7 linked regions of the Homo sapiens genome follow. The protein of the gene in region 7 purifies or fractionates together with the protein of the main gene of each other region. This does not show direct contact. Each region holds a gene or a part of one and is shown on either strand. Other genes may lie near its edges. The genes, in order: WDR81, RPAP1, NLRP2, TNS4, ARHGEF5, RGPD5 and CRYBB3.

Evidence for each region.
Region 1: the proteins of CRYBB3 (region 7) and WDR81 purify together in Homo sapiens (co-immunoprecipitation; one large-scale study listed by IntAct). This does not show direct contact.
Region 2: the proteins of CRYBB3 (region 7) and RPAP1 purify together in Homo sapiens (affinity purification with mass spectrometry; one large-scale study listed by BioGRID and IntAct). This does not show direct contact.
Region 3: the proteins of CRYBB3 (region 7) and NLRP2 purify together in Homo sapiens (affinity purification with mass spectrometry; one large-scale study listed by BioGRID and IntAct). This does not show direct contact.
Region 4: the proteins of CRYBB3 (region 7) and TNS4 purify together in Homo sapiens (affinity purification with mass spectrometry; one large-scale study listed by BioGRID and IntAct). This does not show direct contact.
Region 5: the proteins of CRYBB3 (region 7) and ARHGEF5 purify together in Homo sapiens (affinity purification with mass spectrometry; one large-scale study listed by BioGRID and IntAct). This does not show direct contact.
Region 6: the proteins of CRYBB3 (region 7) and RGPD5 purify together in Homo sapiens (affinity purification with mass spectrometry, with the first as the bait; one large-scale study listed by BioGRID). This does not show direct contact.

What each region holds. Positions count from the first base shown.
Region 1 is NC_000017.11:1,722,819-1,727,503, reverse strand, and holds the start of WDR81 (WD repeat-containing protein 81), read right to left. Parts: upstream 2,801-4,685; 5' UTR 2,545-2,800; coding exon 1-2,544. UniProt on the Homo sapiens protein: Functions as a negative regulator of the PI3 kinase/PI3K activity associated with endosomal membranes via BECN1, a core subunit of the PI3K complex.
Region 2 is NC_000015.10:41,520,074-41,524,293, forward strand, and holds part of RPAP1 (RNA polymerase II-associated protein 1), read right to left. Parts: intron 4,182-4,220; coding exon 4,023-4,181; intron 3,900-4,022; coding exon 3,698-3,899; intron 3,282-3,697; coding exon 3,172-3,281; intron 2,888-3,171; coding exon 2,692-2,887; intron 2,178-2,691; coding exon 2,025-2,177; intron 1,808-2,024; coding exon 1,665-1,807; intron 1,075-1,664; coding exon 318-1,074; intron 1-317. UniProt on the Homo sapiens protein: Forms an interface between the RNA polymerase II enzyme and chaperone/scaffolding protein, suggesting that it is required to connect RNA polymerase II to regulators of protein complex formation.
Region 3 is NC_000019.10:54,986,554-54,990,773, reverse strand, and holds part of NLRP2 (NACHT, LRR and PYD domains-containing protein 2), read right to left. Parts: intron 753-4,220; coding exon 582-752; exon of another isoform or gene 381-581; intron 273-380; coding exon 102-272; intron 1-101. UniProt on the Homo sapiens protein: Suppresses TNF- and CD40-induced NFKB1 activity at the level of the IKK complex, by inhibiting NFKBIA degradation induced by TNF. When associated with PYCARD, activates CASP1, leading to the secretion of mature pro-inflammatory cytokine IL1B.
Region 4 is NC_000017.11:40,498,399-40,503,126, forward strand, and holds the start of TNS4 (tensin-4 precursor), read right to left. Parts: upstream 3,226-4,728; 5' UTR 3,136-3,225; intron 1-3,135. UniProt on the Homo sapiens protein: Promotes EGF-induced cell migration by displacing tensin TNS3 from the cytoplasmic tail of integrin ITGB1 which results in dissociation of TNS3 from focal adhesions, disassembly of actin stress fibers and initiation of cell migration.
Region 5 is NC_000007.14:144,371,963-144,376,182, reverse strand, and holds part of ARHGEF5 (rho guanine nucleotide exchange factor 5), read right to left. Parts: coding exon 4,154-4,220; intron 3,885-4,153; coding exon 3,755-3,884; intron 3,501-3,754; coding exon 3,426-3,500; intron 2,989-3,425; coding exon 2,899-2,988; intron 1,452-2,898; coding exon 1,294-1,451; intron 670-1,293; coding exon 508-669; intron 1-507. UniProt on the Homo sapiens protein: Guanine nucleotide exchange factor which activates Rho GTPases. Strongly activates RHOA. Also strongly activates RHOB, weakly activates RHOC and RHOG and shows no effect on RHOD, RHOV, RHOQ or RAC1.
Region 6 is NC_000002.12:109,831,998-109,836,217, reverse strand, and holds part of RGPD5 (RANBP2-like and GRIP domain-containing protein 5/6), read right to left. Parts: intron 3,368-4,220; coding exon of another isoform or gene 3,255-3,367; exon of another isoform or gene 3,199-3,254; intron 1,222-3,198; coding exon 1,127-1,221; intron 400-1,126; coding exon 1-399.
Region 7 is NC_000022.11:25,202,625-25,205,845, forward strand, and holds part of CRYBB3 (beta-crystallin B3), read left to right. Parts: intron 1-49; coding exon 50-168; intron 169-1,138; coding exon 1,139-1,271; intron 1,272-2,595; coding exon 2,596-2,738; intron 2,739-3,221. UniProt on the Homo sapiens protein: Crystallins are the dominant structural components of the vertebrate eye lens.

The sequences.
Region 1 (4,685 bases), on a different chromosome or scaffold from region 7:
GTACTCAAACAGTTGGTCCAGCTTGCCCCTCTCTGCTCCCATGGGGACTTCGGGGCCACTCATCTGCAGGAGTGTGTCCAGCACGGGCTGCAAAGACACAGGGACCTCCTTGGGGTGGCGCGTGCAGAGCCCTCGGACAGCCTGGAAGCGTACCCACAAAGGTGCATCGGGCTGCAGCGTCCGCACCCTGGTGGCAAACACCATCTCTGCCAATAGGACACCCAGCGCCTGCATGTCCCTGTGGAGTAGGCACTGCAGTGGCACAGCCGGCTGGACCCGGGGCTGCTCAGGCACCTCCAACAGGCCCCCTAGGCCTTTGGCCAAGAAGTTGCCCGTTTTCTCCAGCTCCTCCAGGGCCTGCATGGGATTGAAGCCCTCGGGAAGAAGAATCCTCCCCTCCTCACCCTCCCCAGGGTCTGCCCCAGCAGCTTTATTCCTGCGGCCTGGACGGGAGGCTGAGGCCACTGAGAAAGAGAGAAGTCCAGGGGACGCTTGACTGGAGGAGCCCAGCTGGTCACCTGCTTTCCCAGCAAGGGAAATGGAATCCAGAGCTTCTGTGGCCTGTTCCAAGTCGTCTTCTCCTGCCACCGGCCTGTCTCTGGTCCAGCTAGCCTCACAGGGAGTGGCCTCTAAAACTGGCCGGCCCACTCCATTTGGAAGCTGTCCCGGGTTTTCCGTGAAGTCCTCCCGGCCTGTGGTCTCCTGGATGGTCTGGACCAACAGCTTGGGGATGAGGGGAGGCTCGGGGGCAAGGGCAGGAGCCCCAGCCAGGCGCTGGGGGTGTGGCTGATCGAAGAGCTGCACCACCCCGTAGCTGGCCAGGTGAGTGTGGGCGTCCACCAGGTGCAGACACACATTCTTTTCCTTGACAGCCTCCTTACCCTGGAGTTTATAGCCAAACGTGAGGTCGATCCAATGGTGCAGGTCCCGGGATACCTCGCGGCTCTCCAGCAGGGCTCGGTGGGCAGCTACGAACTCCTGGCTGGAGCTGCACCAGGCTGGCACATCCAGGTCAGGCATGTCGGGGTGGATGGAGCGGAAGATAGAGGGATCGGTGTAGAACTCCGGAATGCACTCATCCGGGGTCCAGTTCTGCATCCGCTCCATGCTGGCCGGATACTCATGGGGCTCCCACTGCGCGCGGACGTGTCCGCAGAGCACCGACCGAGGCGTGCGCCGAGCCTTGTACACATAGTACGTGATGTCGGAGAGCACGTCTGAGATGTGGTGGGGAACATGAGGGGGTTCCCCGCCGCCCGCCCCGCCTGCTACGAATGCCTGCCGTGTCATCTCATACGTGAAGTCCAGTTGCTTATCCCCCTTGTTGAGGCGGAACTTGGACTTGCGCAGGTCTCGGAAGCGCCCATGGGGCGTAGTGAAGTCCACCACCCAGGGCAGCACGGGGTGGTAGTTGGGGTCCCCCTGCCGCCGACCTGCCAACCGATTCAGCTGCATGAGGTAGTGGAAGTTGCTGATGCGGCCGTGGACCCAATCTAGCACGAGGCTCCGAAGTTCCTCCTGGCCAGTGGGTTGCCCAGGTTGCCCTCCCTGCTCCTCTTGAGACACAATGCCCGCCTCATCCCTTGCCACAGGGGCCTCCTCATTCTCGTCCTCCTCGGGCCTCTCATAAGCACTCAGGTCCAGTCGCAGCTCGCTGCAAAGCTTCTCATCCACTGCGATGTGATACAAAGACAGGGCCCCACACGCCAGCCCCTGGCGGTGACAGGCGTCCATAGCCCTCAGCACGCGGAAGAGAATGAACAGCACCTTGGCCTGGCTGTTGGTCAGCTTGGCAGGGCTGAAGGTGACCACGTCATGTAGGGAGAACTGTACGTAAGGGTGTACCACATACAGCATCTCCGGCGACTCCAGCAAGGCCTCAGCCCGTAAAAGACTAGGGCAAGCAGGGCTGCCCCGAGGGGGGCAGGGGCCTTCTCTGGCATATGAAGGGCATTGGGTAGTTTCACCCACTGGCAGGAAGGAGCAACCATAGACCCTCTGCAGAGCCTGCCGTACTGAGTCCAAGGCAGGGACAGCTGAGGGGGCAGGGCTGTGACTGTACGGCTGGCCGTAAGTGTGGTATGCATGGCGCCACAGGTTGCGATAATTCTGGGCGGCAACCTCCTGCATGAAGCGAGTGAGGGTCTCAGGGCCGCAGGACCCGTCCTCAAAGGGCAGGCCCCCGCCCAGAGGGTAGGACAGTCTCCGCTTCCGCAGCCCATGCACCTCCACGCGCGTCCAGCCGGCAGGCAGCCTTTGCACAGAGCGCTGCAGGAGAGTCCTGACTTCCGCTTCTCCCAGGCCCTCTGCGCGGGGACAGGGTCCCAGGGGCAGCCGGCGATCGCGGAGGCTGGCCAGCCAGCGCGCAGGCACTAGGGCCACCACGTGGGTGCCCCCCGGGGCCGGAGCCAGCTGCCTGGGATCGATGCTCAGGTCCCTCTCCACGCTCCGGAGCAGCTCCTGCATGTCTGGGCTTGGCGGGGAATGCCAGCCCCCGGCCGGGGTTCTGAGAGCGCCTTCCCGCCCCCCGCTGCCCTGGGCCATCTCCTCCAGGCCGCCCGGGGGCAGCGCGGGGCTGAGCCCAGCCACGGCCCTGCTGGCGACGGCTTCCGGGGTGCCAGGCCGGCGGGGCTGGGATGGGCGCGGGACAGGGGCTGGGGCGGAGGCGGCCGCAGGAAGCCGGCGGCGGCGAAGAGGCGGACGGGGGGCGCGCTTACCCCTCCGCGGGTCCTGCGCTCCGGGCGCGGCGGGGCAGAGGCTGCCGGGCGCGAGCACCGGGCTCCACCGTGACGGGTCAGCTGACGCGGGTCACGTGATCGCCCCAGCACGGAAACAAGCGCACGTGGCTCCAGAGGCCCGGGCGGGACCCCGCTTCCTGCCCGGCGGCCTCCCCGCCCTCCCTCCCGCTGCTCCGCTCTGGCTCGGTCTGGGCTCCGCTTCCTCCCGGGGCTGAAAGGGTCTCCAGCCAGCTCCAGCCGGGCCCGGCGGAGGGCGATGCCTACCGCCCCACCCCTCCCTACTCCCTCCAGCACGCACCAGCGCGCGGGTCCCGGAGGCTGTTCCCAGAGATGCCAGCCTCTTAGTTAAGTGCGGACCGCACAACCAGGGGCAGAACTGGGACTTCTGTTGTGTCTATTTTTGAGACGGAGTCTTGCTCTGTCGCCCAGGCTGGAGTGCAGTGGCGCGATCTCGGCTCACCGCAACCTCTGCCTCCCGGGTTCAAGCGATTCTCTTGCCTCGGCCTCCCGAGTAGCTGGGACGTCAGGAGCGCGCCACCACGCCCGGCTAATTTTTGTATTTTTTAGTAGAGATGGGGTTTCGCCTTGTTGGCCAGGCTGATCTCGAACTCCTGGCCTCGTGATCCACCCGTCTCGGCCTCCCAAGGTGCTGGGATGACAGGCGTGAGCCACCGCGCCCGGCCAGAACTGGGACTTTTGACATGGAATCCCCCCGGCGCCTCCATGCCACCTTCCATAGGAAGGAGCTTTTTAACTTTCCTAAGTACTTCAACAGTCACATTCCATTTGGCCCTCGCAACACACTCTGTGAGGTAGGGAGGACAGTTATTACTGTTTATATTTTACAAGTGATAACCAACAACCGCCAGAGAGGCTTGTCCGCCTGGCGGAATGGAGACTTAGAAACTGGTGCCAGCCTTCTTTCTGCCCAGGAGCACTGCCTCCTGACAGCCCTCTCACGGCTTTTTAAAAAACAAAACTGGCCGGGTGCAGTGGCTCACGCCTGTAATCCCAGCACTTTGGGAGGCTGAGGCAGCTGGATCACGAGGTCAGGAGATCGAGACCATCCTGGCTAACACGGTGAAACCCCGTCTCTACTAAAAACACAAAAAATTACCTGGCCGTGGTGGGGGGCGCCTGTAGTCCCAGCTACTTGGGAAGCTGAGGCAGGAGAATGGCATGAACCCAGGAGGCAGAGCTTGCAGTGAGCCGAGATGGCGCCACTGTACTCCAACCTGGGCAACAGAGCGAGACTCCGTCAAAAAGAATAAATAAATAAATAAATAAATAAATAAATAAATAAATAAAAATAAATAAATAAAAATAAAACCAAATAAATAAATAAAAATAAATAAATAAAATAAAATAAAAATAAAACGAAACCCTGGGCTGTCTGAGGGAGAGAAGTGGCCCAGGCCCAGAGGCCTGGTGTTTTGGGGGAAGAAATGTTCCCCCAAGACTTCCTGTTGAAGATTGGCCTCTGCGGTACCACAGAGCCTGCCAGCTGTGGTCAGAGCCTCCAGATGTCACTGTGGCTGGGGGAAGGGTGCGGCACAGGATATGGAATAGAAACCAGACAGCCGGCACCAAAGCAACATGATTCCTCAAGGGGTCTTAGTTCTGACTCATCTGCAGGACAGATAGACCATTGTCTACAGTGAAACCACTGGCCCTGTTTCTTTTGTCTCCCTCTTAGGAGAGAGTTTGCCTCTTGAAGGAGTTTGGTGTACAGGTGTGAGGGTCCCATAAAGACACTTAGGAAAACTAGGCCTTGGCCGGTCACGGTGGTTCACACCTGTAATCCCAGCACTTTGGGAGGCCAAGGTGGGCGGATCATGAGGTCAGGAGTTCAAGACCAGCCCGGCCAACTTGGGGAAACTCCATCTCTACTAAAAACACAAAAAAATTAGCCGGGTGTGGCAGCGGGTGCCTGTAATCCCAGCTACT
Region 2 (4,220 bases), on a different chromosome or scaffold from region 7:
CAGGCACCCGCAACCACGCCCAGCTAAGTTTTGTATTTTTAGTAGAAATGGGGTTTCACTATGTTGCCCAGGCTGGTCTCAAACTCCTGACCTTAAGTGATCCACCCACCTCAGCTTCCCAGAGTGATGGAATTACAGGCGTGAGCCACCACACCCAGCCCATGTTAAGCCCTTTTCATTGATTCTCTTAATCCCCTCAAAGCCCCCAAGAGGTAAGATGAGGAAGCTGAGGTCTTCCAAAGCTCCTCAAGGCTCAGGACTGCCCCCGAGGCCCAGTGCAGGGTACCCTTGCAGGTCCTGCTGGGCTGAGAAAGTACCTGGGTCAGAGGCAGGCTCAGAGCTCGCAAGGCTCCCACGTGTTCCCCAAAGAGGGCAAGGCGCAAGGTGACACTGAACCGACGCTGCAGGGGCAGGAGGACCAGGGCCCCAAAGAGGTGGTCCCCAAAAGAGACAGCCTCAAAATGATCCAGGAAGTTGGCATAGAGGTCAGGGAAAGACGTCAGGCCAGGGAGTCGGCAGTCCAGGTTGAGGTTTGGCAAGACTTGAGGCTGACAGAGCTGGGCGAGGAGGGCTGCCACCAGATGCTGTACTGGGGACTCCCGGAACAGCTCACTGTCCACCAGGAACACACACATGAGCCGTGCCAGGCGGGCAGCAGGGGGCACAGCCCAGAGAGCCTGGGGGCGCCAGCTCTCCAAAACTAGCACCCACTGCAGGACCCGCATGGCTGTGCCCATGGTGTCTGTGGGAGAGAGTCCCGAGGGGGTGTCTGAAGCCCGGTGGTAGAGGCGAATCAGTGGCAGGAAGGGCCAGTCGGTGGGCAGCAGCGGCTCCGTAGGCATGGGCAGTAGCAGGGTTGGGACTCGCTGTAGCTCCCCTCGGTGCAGAGCCTGGGAGGCCAGCAGACTGGCTCGGGCTGGCGAGCAATGAGTCAGGTAGCAGTTGCGGATGCTGGGGAGGTCCTGGCAGGCCTGAGCCAGCAGAGTCCCTTGCCCACACCGAGGGACCCTGCTGCTTCCTAACGACAGCTGGTCAGAGAAGTCGGCTGCCTCTGGACCCCCTGATGTTCTTTCCCTGTAATGGGACCCAAAAGCCAAAAATGAGGGCTGGAACCACAGCACTTGGAGGCTGTGCCAGCTCTTTGGAACTTCCTGGAGGCTCCTAGGTCCAGACCTGTGCCTCTCTGCTCCCTTAACTACTTCCCGCGCAGTGCTGTGTAGCAGTTAAGAGGATGCACACTACAGCCAGCTGCCTAGGCATGAGTTTACATAACTTCTCTGGGCCTCAGTTTCCTCAGAGTAAAATAAGGATAATAATAGTATCTATCTCATGGTCCAAGTAAAATACTTAAAATGTAGATAAATACATAAGGGAGTATCAAACACAGAGTAAACACTCAGTAGCGGATGGCTATTACATGTGTGTAACTGATTTAGATACCATTTTTTTAGCCATGCAGTCACACTGAAGTCTCACAATCATTCTTGGGTGTGGTTAGCCTGATCCTCACTTCACTAATGAGGTAATGGAAGCTCGGAAGAGTTAAGTGTCGTCGGTGGAAGAAAGAGAATTTAGGTCTCCTGGCTCCAAATTCAGGGCTGCTCTGTTAACAACTGCAGCAGCGTCCAAAAGGGCTGAGTTGATGCCACCAACCAAGCACTTACGGGAGGAACTCCAGCCGGAATACACAGCTCAGCAGCAGCTCATGGGTGAGGTACTCACTTCCGGGCAGCAGCCGGCTCAGCAGGGCCAAGGCCATACCATGATAGAGGGCAGCATGGGTGGCTGGCAGTGGCTGCAGCGCTGCCTGCAGACAGAAAAGCAGGGAACTACCTAGTACAGGAGAAGGGGACGTGGCAGAGAGAAGTGAGGAAGAGGATAAAAGTGAGGCTGAAGGGCAGAGGTCCAGGGCATGTCTGGAGGAAAGTGGGAGCTGCATGGCCTGGCAGAAGCAGGCTGGGTTCCACAGAAACAGGAAGGAGATAATGGGATGACAGGAGAACCTGTCAGACAGGGGGACCTACCGCTTTCTGGGCCAGAGCGAGTGCCAGGTACTGCAGGTGGTACTCATGGCGCAGGGCCCATGCAGAGAAAGGTGTGAGGTGTGGGGCAGCCCCAGGAGCCACACACTGGAGGAAGTAATTCTGGAGTCCCGGGGCAGCCAATATGGCAGCCAGCTGAGGAAAAGCAATTTTGTTCAGATCTAGAAATTGACTCTCATGCCTTCTAGGGCTCCCCAGGTGGCTGCCCCTCTCCAGACTCAGGGAAATGAGTGCCAGCAGAAGGCCTCCCTTCCCCATGGGACACCCTCCCACTTTCTTTTTGGTTTTTTTTGAGATGGAGTTTCGCTCTTGTTGCCCAGGCTGCAGTGCAATGGTGTGATCTCAGCTCACCGCAGCCTCCGCCTCCCGGGTTCAAGTGATTCTCCTGCCTCAGCCTCCCGAGTAGCTGGGATTACAGGCATGTGCCATCATGCCTGGCTAATTTTGTATTTTTAGTAGAGATGGGGTTTCTCCATGTTGGCCAGGCTGGTCTCGAACTCCCGACCTCAGGTGATCTGCCCACCTCGGCCTCCCAAACTGCTGGGATTACAGGCGTGAGCCACCGCGCCCATCCCACCCTCCCACTTTCTTTCTGATTCCTGCCATCTTGGCCCCTTGCCTGGCCCCTAATCAGGCACCCCACACTTACCTGGCCACACAGCCCCTTGTGGATCTGGGCCAGGGTATTAAGAAGAGAGAGGAGGGCAGTGAGGAATGGGAAGGGTGAGGCTGAGCCAGCCAGACTGAGACGGGGGCAGCCTCCCGAGCAGCCCAGTGACACGAGGCTGGGGGGAGCTTCAAGGGCTGGCACACAGGACAGCGGGTTGCAGAGAAGGGAGCAGTGCCTGTAGGTGAAGTGGAGAGTCTGAGGGGGACTCTGGCCTGGCGTGTGCCAAGCTGGAAAGAGCTTCTGGGTCTGTACCTAAGACTAACGGGGGGCCTGGCTGTGGAGGTCAGTGCTGCTCACACTCCTCAGAGCCCACCCCACTGCTGCCTGCTAGGGACTCGGGTTTCCCTCGGGCCGAGGGCCTGCACCCTGGGATGGACCTGGGAGCTGGACCCAGGAATCCCACAAGGAAAGAAATTGCCTCCTCCCCTGCTTCCCCCAGCTACCAAACACAGTACATACCTAAGGGAATCCCACAGGCTGCCCAGTGTGGGCTGACTCAGCAGTGGCAGCAGCAGCTCCTCTGACAGGCGCTGCATGTCCTGGAGCCAATCCTCCGGGCATGAGCTTGGCTGGTGGACCAAGGAATTCACTGAGCTGATGGCCCAGCCATTCATTCTCCTAGACCCTGTGTACCCAGGCCAATGCCACCATCCCAACAGCCCAAAAGAGCACATTTGGAGGCTTCTGCAGGCTGAGCCTTCTGAAGGGAGAGAAGGCCCCGATGTGTAGGGGGCATAAAGAGGGAGCACACAGGCTACAGGAAGGCTGAGCTGCTGCGTGGGCTCTCTGGTCCCCACCAACATGGCTCCTGGGAAGCTCCACGGGGATATGGAGGTAGAAAGAGGAGGAAGGGTAGGAATTAAAAGGGAAGATAGTAAATGGGGAAGTAGGAGTGGAGAGATGGACACAGAGAGGGAGCAACGGGTGGAATGTAGCTGAAGGCAGGGTGCGGGGGCCTGGTGGACAGCCGGCAGGAGGCACTCACTTGCTGGCTCCAGGCCTGGTAGTAGGCTCCCAGGAACAACAGGCAGGCAACGGGCACTGGGCCCACGGCTCTCCACATCTCAGGTCTGGACAGCAACTTCAAGGTCTGCCTTAGACACGGCTCAACAAGAGGCTGGAGCCCAGACACCTGTGTCCAAGTGACTAAGGAAGGGGTGGCCGAGAGGCTGGCCTCAGCAGAATCACTACAAAAGTGCCAAAGGGTGCCACAGTGAGGATCTGGCTGCCTCACGCCCCTTTACACTCCAGCCACCCCAGCCCTGTGGAGGAGCCCTCCACCTGTCCTGTGGGTCCTGGCTATAAACTACCTGATGGTTTCAGCAGGGGTACTGCCGGCTGCCAGGGTTAGCTGGGTGAGGAGAGTGAGCAGTGAGGCTATCCGCTGCATGGACAGGGGTTGAGGTGGGTGGGTGCTGAGCTCCCGCGGCACCACCTGCAAGGCCCGCATCAGCACTGGGTAGAGCTCCCTAGGGAAGAACAGGGACTGATTTTCACTGTATGAAAGC
Region 3 (4,220 bases), on a different chromosome or scaffold from region 7:
TTTAGAGGAATTAAGTGTTCTCATAACCACCCTACTCAAACCCGGAGGTGGGGGGCGTGTGCATATACACCCACGCACACAGGCAGCCAGCACGGACTTACACCAAGGTCTGCAGTTTACACTCGGGGTACCTCAAGCCCTCACACAGAAACTTCACCCCTGTATTCCCAATGGGGTTCTTGGCCAAGCACAGGTGTGTCAGCTCCCGGCTGACAACCAACACAGCAGCAAGGTCCTTGCAATTGGCTTCTGTAAGGTGACAGTTTTCCAACCTACAAAAGAATCACAAATGGCAACACGGTTGACAGGTCCAACTTCAACCTTCCCGGCTAGCTCCACAAGTGCCAGCATCCAAAAGCCCCTTCTTGTGAACTCCCCACCTTCTATCATGCACTGGTGATCCTATGAAGGAATAGGAATGAGAGAAGAACAAAATTCACAGGCCATCGGCCTGGATCTAAACATGGGAACAGGTGTTCACATCAGCGAGAGGTTCCATACAGCCAAGTCAGGCATGACCATTGCTCGTCTGTGGCCCCAGATCGAAAGCACAGCTGCTCTGTAAGAGAGGAGAGACTTACGACAACCTCTGCAGAAAGCACTTGGGGTGTCTCAAAGTTGTGTACAGCAACTTAGCACCCTCATCCAGAAGCTCATTGTCGGAGAGGTTTACGCACGTCAGGGACTGGTTGACTTCAAGGGCCAAGGAGAGATCAGCCCACTGCTGAGTGGTAGCGGAACAAGACACCAACCTGTGGGAGAAATAGGACCACGTCATTTTTTTTTTTTTTTTGAGACTGAGTCTCACTCTTGTTGCCCAGGTGGCGCAATCTCGGCTCACAGCAACCTCCGCCTCCTGGGTTCAAGTGATTCTCCTGCCTCAGCCTCCCGAGTAGCTGGGACTGCAGGCATGCACCATGCACCAACATGCCCAGCTAATTTTGTATTTTCAGTAGAGGTGGGGGTCTCTCCATGTTGGTCAGGCTGGTCTCAAACTCCCAATCTCAGGTGATCTGCCCACCTCGGCCTCCCAGAGTGCTGGGATGACAGGCGTGAGCCACCGCGCCCGGCAGAACAAGTCATTCTTGAGAATCTAACCGTGGAATCGTCTTTGGTTTACATCTCACTGGTTGTGTTATACCCCGACTTGAATTATCTGGAGCAGCAGTTGTCAAAGGGTGGTCAGACCAGTGGCACCAACATCGCCCAGGAATCAGCTGGAAATACAGAACTTAGTCAATCTGACTCTAATGTTGGATGCAGACTCCGCTAACCTATGTTTCATTGTTTGGTTTTTTGAAAGGGAGTTATTTATGCTCTGTCGCCCTGGCTGGAGTGTAGTGGCGCGATCTCAGCTCACAGCAACCTCTGCCTCCCAGATTCAAGAGATTCTCCCGCCTCAGCCTCCTGAGTAGCTGGGATTACAGGCAAATGCCATCTTGCCTGGCTAATTTTTGTATTTTTTAGTAGAGATGGGGTTTTACCATGTTGGCCAGGCTGGTCTCAAACTCCTAACTTTGGCCGGGGCAATGGCTCATGCCTGTAATCCCAGCACTTTGGGAGGCCGAGGTGGGCAGATCAGGAGGTCAGGAGTTTGAGACCATCCTGGCCAACATGGTGAAACCCCGGCTCTACTAAACATACAAAAGTTAGATGGGCGTGGCGACACGTGCCTGTAGTCCCAGCTACTCAGGAGGCTGAGGCAAGAGAATCACTTGAACCCAGGAGGCGGAGGTTGCAGTAAGCCGAGATCACTCCACTGCACTCTAGCCTGGGCGACAGAGCAAGACTCCGTCTCAAAACAAAAAACTCCTGACTTCAAGCGATACACCAGCCTAGGCCTCCCAAAGTACTGGGATTACAGGCAGGAGCCACCATACCCAGCCCACTAACCTATGTTTCAAGGTGCCCTGTTCATCCGGAAAATGTGTTAGAATAAATTCATAAGAAATGAGTGGCTGGGCACAGTGGCTCATGCCTGTAATCCCAGGACTTTGGCAGGCCAAGGCAGGTGGATCATGAGGCCAGGAGTTTAAGACCAGCCGGAACAACATGATGAAACCCCATTTCTCCTAAAAATACAAGAATTAGCTGGGCGTGGTGGCACATGGCTGTAATCCCAGCATTTTGGAAGATGGATGTCACTTGAGGTCAGGAGTTCGAGACCAGCCCAGCCAACACGGTGAAACCCCGGCTCTACTAAATATACCAAAAATTAGCTGGGTGTGGTGGATTGCCCGAGGTCAGGAGTTTGAGACCACCCTGGCCACCAGCATGGCGTAACCCTGTCTCTACTAGAAATACAAAATACTAGAAATACAAAAATACAGGTGGGTGCCTGTAATCCCAGCTACTTGGGAGGTTGACGGAGAAGAATCACTTGAACCCGGGAGGCAGAGGTTGCAGTGAACCAAGATTGTGGCACTGCACTCCAGCCTAGGAGACAGAGCAAGACTATATCTTGAGAAAAAAAGAAAGAAATTAGTGACCCAAATCTTTAATTCACCCAATATTCCCCCTCACCCTGCATCCCATTATTCTCAGGCAAAAAGAAAAGAGGGTAATTGCAACGGTTAGTAATGATAGCAGCCACTATTGAATGCATGGGCTTGGTTTCATTCAACCTTCCAATACCTGTAAGATGTACAGCATCCTATTCAACTAAGATCCCATTAAGCAGCCTAAGATTGTATCAGTAGAGCCAGAGCAATCAATTTTTTTTCTGTCCTCGAGATGGAGTTTTGCTCTGTTGCCCAGGCTGGAGTGCAATGGCGTGATCTTGGCTCACTGCTACCTCTGCCTCCTAGGTTCAAGCAATTCTCTTGCATCAGCCTCCATGAGTAGCTGGGATTACAGGCACGCGCCACCATGCCCAGCTAATGTTTTTGTATTTTTAGTAGACGTGGGGTTTCACCATGTTGGCCAGGCTGGTCTTGAACTCCTGACCTTGTGATCCACCTGCCTTGGCCTCCCAAAGTGCTGGGATTACAGGCATGAGCTACCGCACCCAGCCAAGATTTTTTTTTTTTTTTTTGAGACAGTCTCACACTGTTGCCCAGACTGGAGTGCGGTGGTGTGATCTCAGCTCACTGCAACCTCCGCCTCTCAGGTTCAAATGATGCTCCTGCCTCAGCCTCCTGAGTAGCTGGGACTACAGGCGTGCGCCAACATGCCCAGCTAATTTTTGTATTATTAGTAGAGACAGAGTTTCACCATGTTGACCAGGCCGGTCTTGAACTCCTGACCTCAAGTGATCCACCCACCTCGGCCTCCCAGGCGTGAGCCACTGCGCCTGGCCCAGGGCAATAATTTGAGGCCAATGACCACCTACTACACCAGTGTGGCCAAGTGAGGCTTCATGGAACCCCATGATGCATGTAGGTTCTCATCGCCTGGGCAGCCACTGGACAGCTTCCCAAGGGGAGAGCTCTCAAACCAGAGGACTAACAGAAAAGGGGCAACTTGATGTTCCTGAAGGGTTCTTGCTTGAAAAATGTCAATAGCTGGTATTCTGAATCATCATACAGGAGAAGCATGAACCATGAGTGAATGATCTCTGATAGAAGATAAAGATTCTGGGCTGGGCACGGTGGCTCATGCCTCACTTTGGGAGGCCGACGGCGGGGTGGGGTGGGGGTGGGGGGGTAGATCACCTGAGGTCATGAGTTCGAGACCAGCCTGGCCAATGTGGTAAAACTCCATCTCTACTAATAATACAAAAATTAACCAGGTGTGGTGGTGTGCACCTGTAATCCCAGCTACTCAGGAGGCTGAGGCAGGAGAATCACTTGAACCTGGGAGGTGGAGGCTGCAGTGACCTGAGATCATACCAACGCACTCCAGCCTGGGTGACAGAGCGAGACTCCATCTCAAAAAGAAAAAAGAAAAAGAAAAAACCAAAACCAAAACCAAAACATAAGGACTCTGGCTGGGCATGGTGGCTCATGCCTATAATCCCAGCACTTTGGGAGCCTGAGGAGGGCAGGTCACCTGAGGTCATGAGTTCGAGACCAGCCTGGCAATGTGGCGAAACCAGCTCCACTAAATGCACAAAAATTAGCCGGGCGTGGTGGCGGGTGCCTGTAATCCCAGCAACTTGGGAGGCTGAGGCAGCAGAATTACTTGAACCCAGGAGACAGAGGTTGCAGTGAGCCAAGATCGTGCCATTGCACTTTGGCCTGGGCAACAGAGCAAGACTTCATAAAAAAAAAAAAAAAGAT
Region 4 (4,728 bases), on a different chromosome or scaffold from region 7:
ATAGTACTTAGAAATAAGGACTTATGGAGTATAACAGCCTCATAATAGTAGCTTCCATTTATTGAGCGCTGACCATGTGCCAAATAGTTTACATACGAATTACATTGGTAACTCAATCCTCTCACAGCTCTAGGAAGTACTGCACCCTATTGTCAGTCCTCTTGTTTTTTTTTCTTGAGACAAGGTGTCGCTCTGTTGCCCAGGCTAGAGTGCAGTGGCACAGTCATGGCTCACTGCAGCCTTGACCTCCTGGGGCTCAAGCGATTCTCCCAGCTCACCCTCCCGAGTAGCTGGGACTACAGGCTTGTGCCCTATACCCAGAGAATTTTTTGTAGAAAGAGGGTCTCACTTTGTTGCCCAGGCTGGTCTTGAACTCCTGGGCTCAAGTGCTCCTCCTTCCTCGGCCTCCCAAAGTGCTAGGATTACAGGTGTGAGCCGCTGTGCCTGGCCTTATTTATTTATTTTGAGTTGTCAGTCCATTTTACAGATGAAGATGCTGAGACTCGGAGAGGTCAAGAAACACGCTTCACATCCAGAAAGATGGTGGAGCTGGGATTCAAACCCAGGTGTGGGATTTTGGAATCTTAATTCCTTATGCTAAGGGAGGAGACCACCCCTCATATTGTCTTATGCCCAATTTCTGCCTCCAAAGAAAGAAAAAGTAAAAACTAAAAGGCAGAAATGAAATCCACAAGCAGACAGCCCAGCGCCACACCCTGGGCCTGGTAGTTAAAGATCGACCCCTGACCTAATCGGTTATGTTATCTATAGATTACAGACATTGTATAGAAATGCACTGTGAAAATCCCTTTCCTGTTTTGTTCCCACGTAATTACCGGTGCGTGCAGCCCCCAGTCACGTACCCCCTGCTTGCTCAATTGATCACGACCCTCTCACACGCACCCCCTTAGAGTTGTGAGCCCTTAAAAGGGACAGGAAATGCTCACTCGGGGAGCTCGGCTCTTGAGACAGGAGTCTTGCTGATGCCCCCGGCCGAATAAACCCCTTCCTTCTTTAACTTGGTGTCTGAGGAGTTTTGTCTGCGGCTCGTCCTGCTACAATGCCACATGGAATTCAAGTGCAGAGGGACACCTGGGATCTAGAGAGGGGGCATGATTGGCTGAAGGTCGCACAGGTTTCATGAGAAAAGCCAGGGCCCCTTCCCCTCTCCTGCCTCCCCCAACGCCCGTGGCTCCGGTAGGTCTGATGCCAGACTTTTCCTTGGCCAGGTCCTGCAGGGGGCGGGGCATCCCGGGCACGGGAAGCTTTCTATAAATGGAAGTGGAAGGGAGCCGGCCTCTGCGCTCCCGCCCTCCCGGGACAGCTGAGGACACAGAGCCGGAACCACGGCTTTTTCCACACAGGCTCCAAGTGGACTGGGTTTGTTGGGACAGGATCTGGGCGCTCCCTGCAGGGTTTTCTGGCTGTGTCCTGCAGAGGAGGCTGGGGCTGCTGACTTTGCAGAGCTCAAGGAGGGCTGGGTGTCCCCTCGCAACCAGGACCCAGTATACCTGCTTACTAATTTGGACACAGCTTTTGTGCCACGCTGGGCAAGCGTCCTTTCCTCTCTGGGCAGACCTCAGTTGTCCCATCTGTGTGATGGGGATGTGATAATAACAGACACTGAACACCTTGCATTTTCTCAACAGCTCTCTGAGGAGGGTGCTATTGCTGCAGGGCTGGAGAGGTTGAGGAATTTGCCCAAGGTCATACAACCCCAACTGTGAATTGGGGTTTAAACCCAGGTGGTCTTGCTCCACGGTCCCACACTTTTAGCCTCTGCTGCTGCTTCACATATTTAAGAACCCTGTCCACCGCTGCCCCTTCTGGGATTCTGGAACCAAGAGGGACAGACCTGGAGCTGAGCAAAGGGCAGGCAGCCCCTACGCTCCTCTTCAGCCTCCCCTCACTTTTAAGGCTCTGCGTCGCCCTTGGATGTACCAAGGCAGGGCTCCATCTTACTCCTGTATTCCTGAATGCTGCCCCCTTCGCGGCCCCGCACACTCCTCTAACTTGCTCTTTCTTGCTGTAAGTGGTGGGGAGAGTCCCTGGGCCCGGGGCTCTGTGTGGTTGGGAGGCACGGGGCGGGGGCAAGGAGGGCTCCAGCCACCTCTGCTCTATTTGTAGGTGCCCCCTACCCGCTCCCACTTCTGATTCTGACTCAGATCTCTTTCTTTGTTCCCAAGGACTCTGGGGAGTCCTGGTGCCTTGGCAAATCCCCTCTTCCGTGTCATTGCCAACCTCTTCTCCTGACTTACTCTCTCCCAATGAGCCCAGGTCAGTGAAGGGAGAGGGTGGGGCAAGGGTAAAGCCTGAGTCTCCCCCAAAGCACTTTGCCTCATTAGCCCAATCTCCACTGCACCCCCTATTTTTGAAAACTGGCTCCCGATCTTCCCATCCCTCCCACCCAGACCCGGTGACGCAGGACGTGGACCTCAGGCAGGGACCCATAGGACCAGTGAAGGCCAGCCGCCCCATCTCCCAGTCCTGTCTACCTCTGAAGTGCCCAGAGGGCTCCCAGAGCGCTGGGAGGCGAGAGGCCTGGGTTCTGTGTCCAGTCCCTTTCCATGACCTCAGGCAAGCCTCTTCTCTGTGGCCCTCAGCTCTCTCATCTATTTGCCGAGGGGCACAGGTTTAGTTCCCTTGAACTGCTGAACTCCGCGGTCTGTGATCCTGAGACCATCTCTGTCTCATCCACATCCTCCACCCCATTTCTCCCCACCTTCACTCTGAGCCCTGAGAAATGGAGAAGCTGAAGACAAAAGGTTAAATGAGGCTGGGCTCACGCCTGTAATTCCAGCACTTTGGGAGGCTAAGGTGGGAGGATCACCTGAGGTCAGGAGTTTGAGACCAGCCTGGCCAACATGGTGAAACCGCGTCTCTACTAAACATAAGAAAATTAGCCGGGCATGGTGGCAAACATCTGTAATCCCTGTTACTTGGGAGGCTGAGGCAGGAGAATCGCTTGAACCCTGGAGGCAGACGTTGGCAGTGAGCCGAGATCGCGCCACTGCACTCCAGCTTGGGTGACAGAGCAAGACTCCATCTCAAAAAAAAAAAAAAAAATGTTTAAATGAATCAGGGCCAGCAAAGGTGCTCCGTGTTCCTCTCTTCTTAAAGAATAAAGGCACCTACCTGGTGTCCACAGGTGGGCAGACTGTTGCCTTCACTACTGGCTCCTGGGACCAAGACGACTCAGAGTCCAGGTGAAGAGTCAGGAGAGGCGCCAGTTCACCTCCAGACCTGCCTTAAAAGCAGCTTGCCCGCCTTCTCTCCTCCCCTCCGGGCGGGCCCTGCACGTGGCCCTGACAGCAGTAGGCCCCACCCCTGCTGGATCCAGTGAGCTCAGGTGGGGCTGGCACAGGCAGCAGGAAGGGAAGCACTGGGTGGTGGGTTTTGGGTCTGGGTGTGTGTGAGGGGCTCCCAAGTTCCTGCTTGGGCTTCTCGTGGCACCACATGGCCAGGGAGTCCTTGCTTGGACAGGGCATAGCTAGAATCAAGGTGTGCAGTGGGCACTCCTCAGGTGCTGGCTGGGGCAGAGGCCATGGGTTGGCAGAGCTGGCAGAGAGTGAGGGCCTTGACAAAGCAGGATGCCAGTGGGCAGGAGACCCTCTGCAGTCCCCCTTTGTGCTGGGTCACACTGGGACAGGCACAGGGTAAGGGCCCACTGGAAGTAAGGCTAGGCACGAGCTTGTCTTTTCTTCTTTCTCTCCTTTTACAGTAATGACTCTAGCTTGGGATGGGGCCTCTAACTCAAGGAAAGGAGGCTGAAGTGTCTGGAGGGCTTTGAGAAGGGGCTTATAGCTGTTCCTTCACTCATGGGCTATCTCTGTCCCTCGTCTGGTCTGTGCCCCAGGGTGGAAGTTCCCTGAGGGGAGGACATTGGAGGGTGAGATCAGGAAGCCCAGAAGTCTGGTCTGGTAGCTCCTTCTCCATGGTTCCAACTCTCTCCCTGTTCTAGAGGGGCAGGGGTCCTAGAATGTTGTAAGGAGGTGTTCAGACATGGTGAGGGGAGGGTGCTGATGGCAGAGCCTGGTCTGGGAGCGGTCTGAAGTGAGGGAGCTGGCGAAGTCTCCAGCCCAGGGACTCATGGTGATCCCAGTAGGCTAATCTCAGGGGTGGGTTGCCCCATGCCCCCATTATGCCCAGTGGAAGGGCTTCTGGCCTTACAGTTTTTGATGCCCTGGGGTTTCACTGAGGCATGGTGAACTAGTGCATGGGAGGCCGGTGAGCAAAGCTATGGAAAGTTATATAAGGTGCCCCTTCCTGATGGTGACATAAAAGGTGTCCCTAGGTGTCCATGCAGCCTTGTTGGCACATGGCTTGATGAGCAATTATGTCTTTGGATGAAAAATGTGGTGCTCCTGCCCTGGAGTGGATGTCACTGCACATGGCGGCTTCCCCCATGAGGCTGTGGCTCATGATTGTGGGAGAGTGGGAGGGGCGACTCGTGAGTTTCTTGAGTGGAAGGGGCAGGTTACAGTAGGGCGAAGTGTTGGGCAGAGACTGTGGCAACTCCGGGGTAACCCTGGCCATCTCCCCTGGGGCTGGTATGGATAGCCTCTGCAGTGGTTCTTCAGGGCCAGGGGGTCCTCCAGCCTTACAGACCCATACCTGGGGGTTATGGTCTTTCTTGGCAGATTGGCTCTTTTGTTTCACACCCAGCTGCTTCCTTTAGCTTAAGATGGTCTCAGAACAGTGATTTCAGCCCCAGCTGCCTCACAAACC
Region 5 (4,220 bases), on a different chromosome or scaffold from region 7:
ATTATTATTGAAAACATGAGCAAATCAGCATTCTCAACACTATGGATTTCTGGTCAATAGAGGACTGGTTTGGAAGATGGGAGCACAGAAAGTAAAAGTCACCCAGCACTTGTCTTATTCACATCTGTGCCCACCAGCTGGGGCATAGAAGGGTTTCTGCCTCAGGCATGGAGGCATGTGCTCACAGATACCAGTATTCCAATTCCTTGCTCACTCCATACCAGTCCTTCTCCTTTCTGATACTACACAGACCTTGTCCCTCTTGAGTAAAGAGTATAAAATAGATGCTAAGCCTCGGTGGTGACTTTGTACCCTCTCCCACCCCAATCTCCTGCAAGTTATCCATTAGTTTTAGGAGTCTGAATTTCTCTATGGTGGTCCCCAGTCCAGAATGGGCTAAATGAGGCTGTGGCTGTCTTCTGGACACATTTTCTGCCTTGGTCTCACTTCTTTTCTCGGCTGCCCATCTTCCCCCACCCCCAGCTCCTCTGCCCAGCCCCATCTCACTGAGTCTCCGTGCGGAAGAGGAACTCGGCCTGGGCGCCCTGAGTGTTCTGCCGCAGAAAGAGTCGGAACAGGTTTTTGTGAGGTCCATGTAGCTTCATTTCACACTTTTCCCCCCGAATGGAGGAGAAGGGAGCATGGTCAAATACCAGGAATCGGCTACCCCTGCAAAATACAAATCTTTTCAACCTGATTCTAGAGTTTCCATACTTCACCTACCCTCATAACCTTGGGTTCGAAATCCCTACATCTACAGCCTGCAAATTCCCACAAAAACCATAAGATGGTCCTAACTTGCTCCCAAGATGGTAGCTCCAGGGTCCTCAGGGATTTGTCCTAGTCTGGCAAACCACACACCTAGTGCAGTGGATACATTACCACTTTAAAGAGGTGAAGAGATGGAATTTATATACATTTCCCAAGAACCTTAAGACCAGAGACTTAAGCTCTGGAATTAGCTAAGTATCTCTAGAATAGCAGGTTGAGGCCAGTCCAAAGAAGCCACAAATAGACTCATGTGAGAATGTGATAAGCTAATTTGCTACATTTTGCTCTGTGTCTATACCATATTACATGTCCTGCTATGTGGTCTCATGATACAGTTTGATGGGATCCCCTTTTTGCTTTGGGCTTGTTTTTCTCTTCTCTAGGCTATGACCTGGGCTCTATGGGTTAAGCCATTGAGAAGGGCTCTTCTAGGAACATGACCCTTCTCTCTCCCTTTCAGACCCCCCTCTTTCCTCATCCCCTTCCCCTCTTGTGCCCTGGCCTGCCACTCCAGTCACTGACTCTCGGGGCCGAGACAGCAGCAGACAGTCATTGAAGAGGTGCAGGTGGACTGGACGCGTGTTCAGCTTCCTTCGTAGCCCTGGGGAAGCACTGAACTCCAAGGCTGTCAGCTCCCCACTTTTCACCAGCCAGCGTGACTGAGAAATGAGCGGGAATATCTACAGGGCAGAGGAAGAGAGAGAAGGCAGTGTCACAGATGGGAGAAGCATGAGGTTTGCTCCCAGTCCCACCCTCCTCCCCATGCCACTTCCATGCAAGTTCCACTTGAACAAGCATCTCTTCCACATCTGCCTTCTGGCTCATAACCCATCACTTAGATTCTCTTTCTCTCTGAACCCTCTAACTACCACTGTCCACTGGTGTGTGGCTCCCATGGTTGTATGCTCAGGTAAATAGAAGATGCCTATGGTCCAACTCAGGATAGTGAGTGTGTGGGACAGCTCTGCCCTAGAAGCCTGAACTGAAGGAGGGATGGAAGAGTCCAATCAGGGTATGTGATGGAACAAGTCAGTGAACACTATATGTGTCTTAGAGGTTAAAATAAAATATTAGAGGCAGGTCTGGTATCAATTCCATTTTTTATACCAGAGATATGTGAGCAGCTGGAATCAAACATGGGGGTGAGAAGAACTAGGTGGGGCGTCTTGGAGCTGGAATTTGGTTAAAGATGAGGGTGTGGTCTATGCTTAGTATGTGAATAAGGGATTTTCCTTCTTTTTCAGGAGTGTAAAGATAGTATGTGTTCTAAGCACGAGCGTGGTGGCTCACGCCTATAATCCCAGCACTTTGGAAGGCAGAGGTGGGTGGATCACTTGAGGCTACGAGTTGGAGATCAGCTTGGCCAACATGGTGAAACCCCATCTCTACTAAAAATACTAAAATTAGCCAGACATGGTGGTGCAGACCTGGAATCCCAGCTACTCGGGAGGCCAAGGCATGAGAATCGCTTGAACCTGGGAGGTGGAGGTTGCAGTGAGCCAAGATCGCACCACTGCACTCTAGCCTGGGGCGACAGAGTGAGACTCTGTCAAAAAAAAAAAAAAGATAGTATCTGTTCTAAGTTGGAATTTGAATGTGGAATGTCTATTTTAGATTTGTATTTCAATGAGGGATGCTGGCTCTAAATTTGGATCCAATCTTATGTGGGTTTGATTAGACTAGAAAGAGATTTGATAAAGTAATAAATGAATCAAGCACCAAAACATTCTTTTATAAAGGCTCATCCTGAAAAGTTCTCTCTCATTTGCCCATTTCTCAAATGCACCCCCCTTGTCCTCAGGTAACCACTGTTCCTTTTTTTCTTGTTCTCCTTCCAGAGTTTCCTTATGCACACACAAGCAGACACCTGTATAGATTTGTATCCTCCCACTTTTATACCAAAGGTGATATAATATACACACAATTCTTTACCTTCATCATTTCACTTAGCAGTATGTCTTGGAGACCCAAGTAGGCCTCCCAGAAATAGGACAGAATAGAAGGTGGGCAGAAATGAGGGGAGGGGCTGGGGATAATGTGAGCAAGGTGGTTCCAGGTTAGGGGGTGATCTGCAGGACATGTTAAGGGAGTTCATGGGCAGGGATGGGGTGCATGGGACCGACTCACTTTGCACTCAAACTCAATCTTCTGGCTCAGGTAGATTAGTTCCTCTGTCCGTCGCATACTCTGGACATTGTTATTGCAGTCCCGGATCAGCTAGGGGTGCAGAGAGTGAGGAAAGGGGAAGGGCACTGTGTTAGAGGCTTTGACCTTTGAGTCCCTTGCAAGCAATCTGGAAATAGGTTATGACAGCCTCAGTCATTTTTCCCAGGCTGGAATTGGGCAGGCAGTATCAAGCACAAGTCCTAGGCAACTTTGTATGACTTGGCAGAACATTCCTGAACTGAGTAAAAGTGAGACTGAATGGGGGGGTGATGGTGGAGAGGGCACAGTCCCTTGATGTGGAGTGTGCTCGGCGTGGGAGAGGTGGCCGTGGGGTGTGTATGTTTGGAAGTTTGGCGGATGCAGGGAGGTGGCTGAGCTCTCCCAACAGGGTCCCACCTCCCATGCTCCCTGGAGTCATGGGCCTAGGTGGGAAAGACCTCTCTGAGAAGAACACACAGAGGGTCAGAGTGGAGGTGGTGGCTGCCTACCTGCTCCAGGGCGTGGTGTGCCTTCGTGGCCTCTGCCTCCTCCGAGGAGCCAGGCTGTGTTCTCTTCAGAATGTTCTATTGAACAGACAGTAGGCAGGAGTGAGATGGGAGGAAGAAATGGGAAACAGGAAGAAATGATTGGGGGCTGGTGAATGGAGAAGCCCAGGGACCACATTTTAGCAGCAAATATTTCCAAGCAAGCAGGCAGTGGGCAGCAGGGAGACAGGATGTGGACACCTGGCAGAAGAATGGTTGGTCCTTTGTTGTGGGTCTTCCTGAGGGCATCCCTTTGAGTTAAGGGGAGAGGATCAAGGTAGCATCTGCCCTACCTGGAGCAGCAGTTTGAGGCGGGTGATGCGTTGGAAGGGCAGAATCAGAAAGGACTTGAGGGAAAGGCGCTGGCAGACGGGGTCGCTCTCCAGCTTCTCCAAGACCTCCCGGAAATTGCTGTTGCTATTCCTGCACGGAGAGTGAGCCTTAGGGGAGGGGGGATATGGGGAGCAATGGGGGATGCAGTGAAGGTGCGGGGAAGGGAGGTCAGTGGAGTATCTGTGGGCTGGGAAAGAGCGGTGGGAGCTGATGTACAGGGCGCTCAGATGTGATGCTGGGGTAACCAATACAGAGGGCGGAATGGGGAAAGTGTGCTCTTGGGATAGCCCTCTGGGCTGGGGACTGGTGCATGGTCACCTCAGGGCCTACATGGGGATTAAATGGGGGATGAGTCTCACATCAGGCTCTGGAAGGTGCGTTCCTGATAGGTCTGGTTGGTGACATAAGGCAGGTAGACCCGGCGGA
Region 6 (4,220 bases), on a different chromosome or scaffold from region 7:
GCTGTCCTCAGTCTTATAGGCATCATCATCTTTCTCAAAGTCACCGGAAGTGTTTGCTTTATTGGCCATTTTACCGTATCGTGATGAGAATAATTTTTCTCCAGCACCTGAAAATCCCTTGAAATTGAGGTCTTTTTTGCCAAACTGAAATCCTTCTCCTGAAGTTGATTTTGCAACATCTGCAAATGTAAAAGTGCTACTTGTTTGGCCAAAAATCACACCACGGCCCTTCTTCCGGCCACTAATATCCTGAGCCTGGAAGCCAGTATCATTTTCAAGAGGCTTTTCCCTTTTCTTTTCTTGATTTCCTGGTTCCGAAATGCCAAATTTAAATCCATCAGCAGACACAGGGATGGAAAATCCTTCTTTGGTTGACTTAAATTCTGTATTAGAAGAACCCTGAAACATAAATGAAGGTGAATTTTCTTGATCCACATGCCCAAAATAGTCATGAAATAAATACCTTCTTCATTCCTAAACAATTTATCAAATGATGTTAACAATAATGATGATGATGATGATGATAACATTTATTGAGCATTCATTAATGTGCCAGCTGGGCACTGTTCTAAGCACTTTACATTATTATCTCATTTTAATATCCTCAAAAACCCTATGAATTAAGGTATTATTATTATCCTCATTTTACATATGAGGCAACTGATGCATTGAGAGGTTAAGAAACTTGCCTGTGGTCAAAATAAGCAGAAGAGCAAGGGTCTAAATGCACCCCAACACTCTGTCCTCAAAGCTGTCACATTCAACTACCACTGTAATATTGAGTCTTCAATCAATTGTTATATATATAGCTGTATCAGGCCTGAAAGTACTTACCACATAGTGGGTCAGCAAGGGCATTACAGTTCTATTTCTGTTAAAACAGAACGATGAAGGATCCACCACCACCACTCCCATTTTTAAAATATTCTAAATATTCACACTTACTAACACAAAAATAAGGTGACTAAGAAGGATAATTTCTGTATTTGGAGATAAATTTAAAATATCTACATTTTAAGGGACATAAAAGTTTTAATAGTGAACTGCTCTCTTGAATTTATTTGAAGGAACCCTAAACAATTTAAAAAGAAAATAATTATAAATGTATAAATTATTCCTTTGTTACCTTTGTGGGAGTAACATTAGCTGCTGGTCTGAGAAGATACTGGGAATTATATGCTGGTGACTGACTATAATATACTGAAGGGCCAGTAGTTGCAACTGAAAAAAAAAAAAGAAAAGAAAACACTGTTAAAGTCTATACTACAGTTAAGACTATCTAGGCAAGAGCTATAAATACAAAAGCAATAGAAGTTAAAGAAAGATTTAACTACATAAATTTTAAATTTCTGTACATCAAAATACACCAATCAAGATTATCAAATGACAAACTAGAAAAAAATTGCTAAATATGACATGAAGAATGAGAGAATAGCATCGCTGTGATCAACAAGAACTACCTCGCAAGCATTAAAAAAGGAATAAAGAAGATAGTAACTGTTGCCTTTTCTAAGAAAGATCAGTATGATGTGGAATTATGGACATTCAGTCACAGAAAGGACGTAAGGAACCAAGATGCCATCTGATAGTCAATGCATTTGAAGTGGGCCTAGAAAATCTGCAGAAAGACTAGGTTGTATTTTGTAAACTAAAGCTATTACTCAGAATGTTCAGCTCAAAAATCACCTGACAAATTCATGGAAAGGATGTCATAAATAACATAAAATGTGTTCCCTGGCTTAAAATAAAAAGCACATCAACACTCATACAGATGTACAAACTGTCTGCTCCCTCTGTTTGGTCTGTTTTACCAGGAAACAAAATGACTAGAAGGCACCCATGTTAATGACAAAACTACCAATAGTCATTTGCTTGAACTGTTTTATGATAGTTTTACCAGAAAACAACCAAAAGACCTTTTATGCCTGTACATGGAAGGAGAAACAGAAACTGTGCCAAGAGGTTCCAAACAATTGCCTCTGGAAAGCACTGAAAAATCAAGACCTAGAAAAGGCTAGCCAGAAGCCCAAGTTTGATTTCGGAAACCTTACAGAGGTGAGGATAGCTATTTTGAAATTACTATGGGGAGGAAGCAGGCACAGAACACAGAACAACCTGACAGAAATGGCCCAAGAATCTTAAAGTCTTGCAAGATGTCTGTCTGCATGAAAGCAAAAAGAAAAAATAAAATATTAAATAAAAAAAAATCTTAGTCTGAAGTTTAAGTAGGGACTTTAATTGACTACTGACTCTAAACTGTGCGGCTCTAATAAATCTACTAAAAGTAATCTAATTTTTTAAAGCACCATATGAATAGACAATTTAGGAAAGAAATGTTAATAGGCCTCAAGGAACATGTTTTTGAAGTGAGCCTTGAAAATCTGCAAAATGACGAGGTTGCATTGTGCAAATTGAAGCTATTATGAGAATGTTCAGGTCAAAAAAATTACCTGACAAATTCACGCACAGGATCTCACAAGGAACACAAATGTGTTCGTTGGCTTTAAAAAAATCACATTAACATTCATGTTGATATACAAAAACTCTTCTCCATCTGTTTTGTGTGAGTTTTACCAAGAAACCAAACAACTGGAAGGTACGTTGAAGATGGCAAAACTACCAACTGCCATTTGCATGAATTGTTGAGCATGACTAGTATTAAAAAAACTTAAAAATTGATATCACTTTTGTTCCTACAAATTGGCAAAGGATTTTATAAACTAGTAAGTCAGCATTAGCAAAAGTGCGAAAATGGCACTATCAGATACTAGCGGTAAGAGCATAAACTGAATATTTTGAATACCCTACAAAACTAGGACAGTGTCCTAGAATTTGTAATGGCATAAACCAGAAACAACATAAATAAAGGAACAGAATTTACAGTACTTCCATGTGATGGGATACCATGAACTCATTAATATTCAAAAAACATTTAAGTTTAAAAATGCTCAGAACTAAAGTAACATTTTAAAAACAGGCTAGCTCATCTACACACAACATAGTAACATGGTAACAATCTCATAAAAAATACTATATGTATAGAGAAAGAACCAGAAGGAAATGCTCTCAAATATAAGAAATGTTAATGAGGTGGTTAGCTTTTAGTTTTCTTCACCCTGTTCAGTACTTCTGAGTATCTCCTATGAGCTCATTAATCTTTAATTTTAATCATCTTATTTTAAAAAAACAAGGACCATCTTGATATATGTTTACTTTTATTAAGGAAAAAGAATCTATGAACACAGGAACAGAAATCAGGAGATCTTGGCTCTCGCCCTTTCAGTGCCACAAAGCTGTTTTGTGAACCTGTAAATAATCCATTTGGAGTCTCCATGTTTCTCAATTGTAAAATGACGATGTGCTGCTTCTACACATTTCACAGGGTCATTGCAAGAATAAAATGAGACAATGAGAATGTTGGATTTACATGCTTGTATAAGAACAGAAGACCTTTTATGCCTGTACACAGAAGAAATGGAAATCATGACCCACAAGGCACCAAATAACTGACTGCACACATCACTAAAAAAGCCCCAGGAAAGGCTAGCCGGTTTGTTTATCCTCTTACAAGGACCTATATGATGTGTAAGGTTTTAAGAAAACAAGGTTTGAACGTTAGACATTTCATATACTTATCTATGACTTACGACATTTAATAAGCTTGACTTCACAAAGATTTTCTGTTATTTTGCTTGTGTTGAGAAGATACTATCACAAAAGGCTAGTGGGGTTGCCTTAACTATAGGAACCATCACACAAATGTGCTCATCTAAACTAGATTTTTTTCTAAATCTTTCCTGGGCTAAAAAGAGAAAAAAAAAAAGGGCACTACTACTACCATTTCAGAAGTCTGTCGTACGTAAAAGGAACAATTTTGTTATTTCTGGCTGCCTGGGAGCAATGTATTATACTGGCAAGTGCTTTGGAGTTACACCACTGGAGTGTGAATCTCGGCTCTATCAATAACTAGCTGTATAATAATGAGTAAGTTACCTAACCTTTCTTTATCCATTTCCTTATTTATAAAAAAGGGATTAATAATGGTACCGGCCATTCTAAGTTACTGTAATTAAATCAAATTACATTCACACAGCACTTTTGCACACAGCCAACCCACAGTAAACACTATTAGTAACCTTAGTTCATTAACTGTTTACTGTATACTCTAATAAATGTCTGATACACACCCACGCCCACCTGCACATACACAAATGCTCATA
Region 7 (3,221 bases):
GAGCTGGGAGCCTAGCAGAGGTGGGATGTTTAGGACTCTGCTCTTCTAGGTGATCTTGTACGAACTAGAGAACTTCCAAGGCAAACGCTGCGAGCTCTCGGCCGAGTGCCCCAGCCTGACCGACAGCCTGCTGGAGAAGGTGGGCTCCATCCAAGTGGAGTCCGGGCCGTGAGTACCTAGACCCCCAGTCCCTCGCCACAGCCCTGAGCCTTCTGGGAGTGTGGAGGCCCCAGTCTGAGCTCTAGATCTGTTGTGGGGCTTTTGACAGCTCCCCTGCCTTCTCTGGCCTCGTTTTCCGCATCTGTAAAATGAGAGTTGAAGAATTCTCTAGAATCCTAGATGTCTGCAGAAAATCCCAGGATACCTGAGGTTGGAAGAACAGCAAGGTCAACCTAGCACCTAACTCAGTGACTGGAACATGGGATTTAATATTTATAATTTTAATAATAATTGTAACACCTAAAATTTAACATGCATTATGTCATTGAATCGTCATGACCCTGTGACAGAGGTATCATTCTTATTCCCACTTTATAGATGGGGAAACTGAGGCCAAAGTTGGTAAGTGTCCCATCCATGTCCACAAGGCAGGCAGGTCTCCCAGCTGGGCCCTGAATTCCCGCCTTTGGATTGCAAGTCCAGGCTCTGGCACTAACCATCTGGGTGATCTTCGGCAAGTTGCTTCACACACCAGGCCTCTGTTTTCTCATCTGTTGAATGGGGATAACAATGGTACGTACTTCAGAGAGAGTTTTTATGAAAATGAATGGAATGATGCAAATAAATACATATTAATAACAATACAATACAAAGAAGAGGAAAAGGAAGAGGAAGAAGTCACTGTCACCTATGGAATACTTACTGTGTACCGGGCATTGTGCTAAAGACTTTTCTGGGTACCTTGCACAGAGGCTAGATTCTCAATAACATACCCTAGGATGGTTTTCTGGCCCAGAGTCTCAGACAGTTCCCGGTATGTCCTAGCAGCTCCTTTAATTACAGGTCCAGGAATTAGCAGTAGGGTTGGAGGGAGGGTACAAGGTTCAAGGTCAGCAGCTCTTGGACACTTCTCTCACTAAACTTGAATCCTTCCTCAGCTGCAGCAAAGGTGACCCAGCCAAGCCTCTTCCTCCCTCAGGTGGCTGGCATTTGAGTCCAGGGCCTTCCGCGGGGAGCAGTTTGTTCTGGAGAAGGGGGATTATCCTCGCTGGGATGCCTGGTCCAACAGCCGTGATAGTGACAGCCTTCTGTCCCTCCGGCCTCTGAATATTGTGAGTGTGGTTCCTGCTCACTTCTGGGTGTTCCTGGAAGCAGGGTGCACTGAGAGCTGGTCAGGCAGCTCATTGCACAAGCTGGGCTGAGGGTTTGGCCCATATGGACCTGGCCTGGGAAGGGCCCTCATGTTTCTGATTTGAACAATTGTGTGGGACAAGAAGTGGGATATTGAAGGGACATTCGGTTGGGGATTGAGACACCAGGACTCACATCTTGAATTAAACCAGCATAGCACTGGGACTTTTCTTTGTAACCGTACTAAAACGATGAGCCACATGGCCCAGTCTCAAATCAGTATTGTTATCAAAGAAATGCAGTCCAGGAAATAACTTCAGAAAGTAGCCAAAATACTTTAAGTTCTCCACTTGTGTTTTTCTAGCACCTGAAAGGGACACAGTCCACAGTGACACTTTTTATTTATTTGTTTATTTATTTATTTTTCGAGACAGACTCCTGCTCTGTCACCCATGCTGGAGTGCAGTCTTTCTCTCTCTCTCTTTTTAAACATTTTTATTTATGTATTTTTATTTCATTTTGAGTTGCAGTCTCGCTCTGTCACCCAGGCTGGAGTGCAGTGGCATGATCTCTGCTCACTGCAACCTCTGCCTCCTGGGTTCAAGTGATTCTCCTGCCTCAGCCTCCTGAGTAGCTGGGACTGAAGGCACATGCCACCACGCTGGGCTAATTTTTGTATTTTTAGTAGAGGTGGCGTTTTGCCATGTTGGCAAAGCTGGTCTTGAACTTCTGGCCTCAAGTGATCTGCCTGCCTCGGCCTCCCAAAGTACTGGGATTACAGGCCTGAGCCACCACGCCCGGCCCACAGTGACACTTTAAACACCACCCTTCTCCCTCCCCTGCTTCACTCACACCCCGCAGCTGCTCCAGCCCTTTCTCTTTGTCACATAACTGAGTCCTCCTTAGAGGGCAGTGGAAGAGGGGAAACTGGGAAGATTAAACCGGCATCTGGTTAGGAAAGAGGGAAAGCTCATATGTTGATACTTTTGATCTCTGTCCACCCTCTCCTGGCCTCAGTTTCTCTATCATTTAAATGATGGGATTGAACAAGATCTGGAAATTCCTTTTCAGTTTTATAATCTACGGCTCTAGGTTCCTAAATCAACCAGCTTTGGAGGAATCTCCCCGTCCCTCCTACAGTGAATTTGGGGGTGGAGGCATCTCCTGAGGCCCTTCCCTCCTGCAGCAGGTTTGGGGGTGGGTGTTATTTTGTGGTGACCTGTTGATTCTTTCCGGCATCTGGAGCCTCCTTGACCTCTGTTCTGGATATGGGAGCAGCCGCTCACCCCACGATATTGCCCTCAGGATAGTCCACATCACAAGCTGCATCTGTTTGAGAACCCAGCTTTCAGTGGCCGCAAGATGGAGATAGTGGATGATGACGTGCCCAGCCTGTGGGCTCATGGCTTCCAGGACCGTGTGGCGAGTGTCCGTGCCATCAACGGGACGTAAGGGACCCAACCCTCACCCTTGCCCCATCTTCTGGTCAGCCATGCCTCTGGCTCCAAACAGAATCAGTGCCCATAGTTTCTTATTATTTTATTTATTTATTTATTTATTTTTGAGACGGAGTCTTGCTCTGTCGCCCAGGCTGGAGTGCAGTGGCGCGATCTCAGCTCACTGCAAGCTCCGCCTCCCGGGTTCATGCCATTCTCCTGCCTCAGCCTCCCGAGTAGCTGGGACTACAGGCGCCCACGACCACGCCCGGCTAAGTTTTTGTATTTTTAGTAGAGACGGGGTTTCACCGTGTTAGCCAGGATGGTCTCAATCTCCTGACCTCATGATCTGCCCGCCTCGGCCTCCCAAAGTGCTGGGATTACAGGTGTGAGCCACGGCGCCCGGCCATCGGTGCCTATAGTTTCTTGCATGATTCATGTTCCCTGCACTCCTGTACTGTTGAGATTTCTAGGCAGCCTTGACTTAAAACAAGT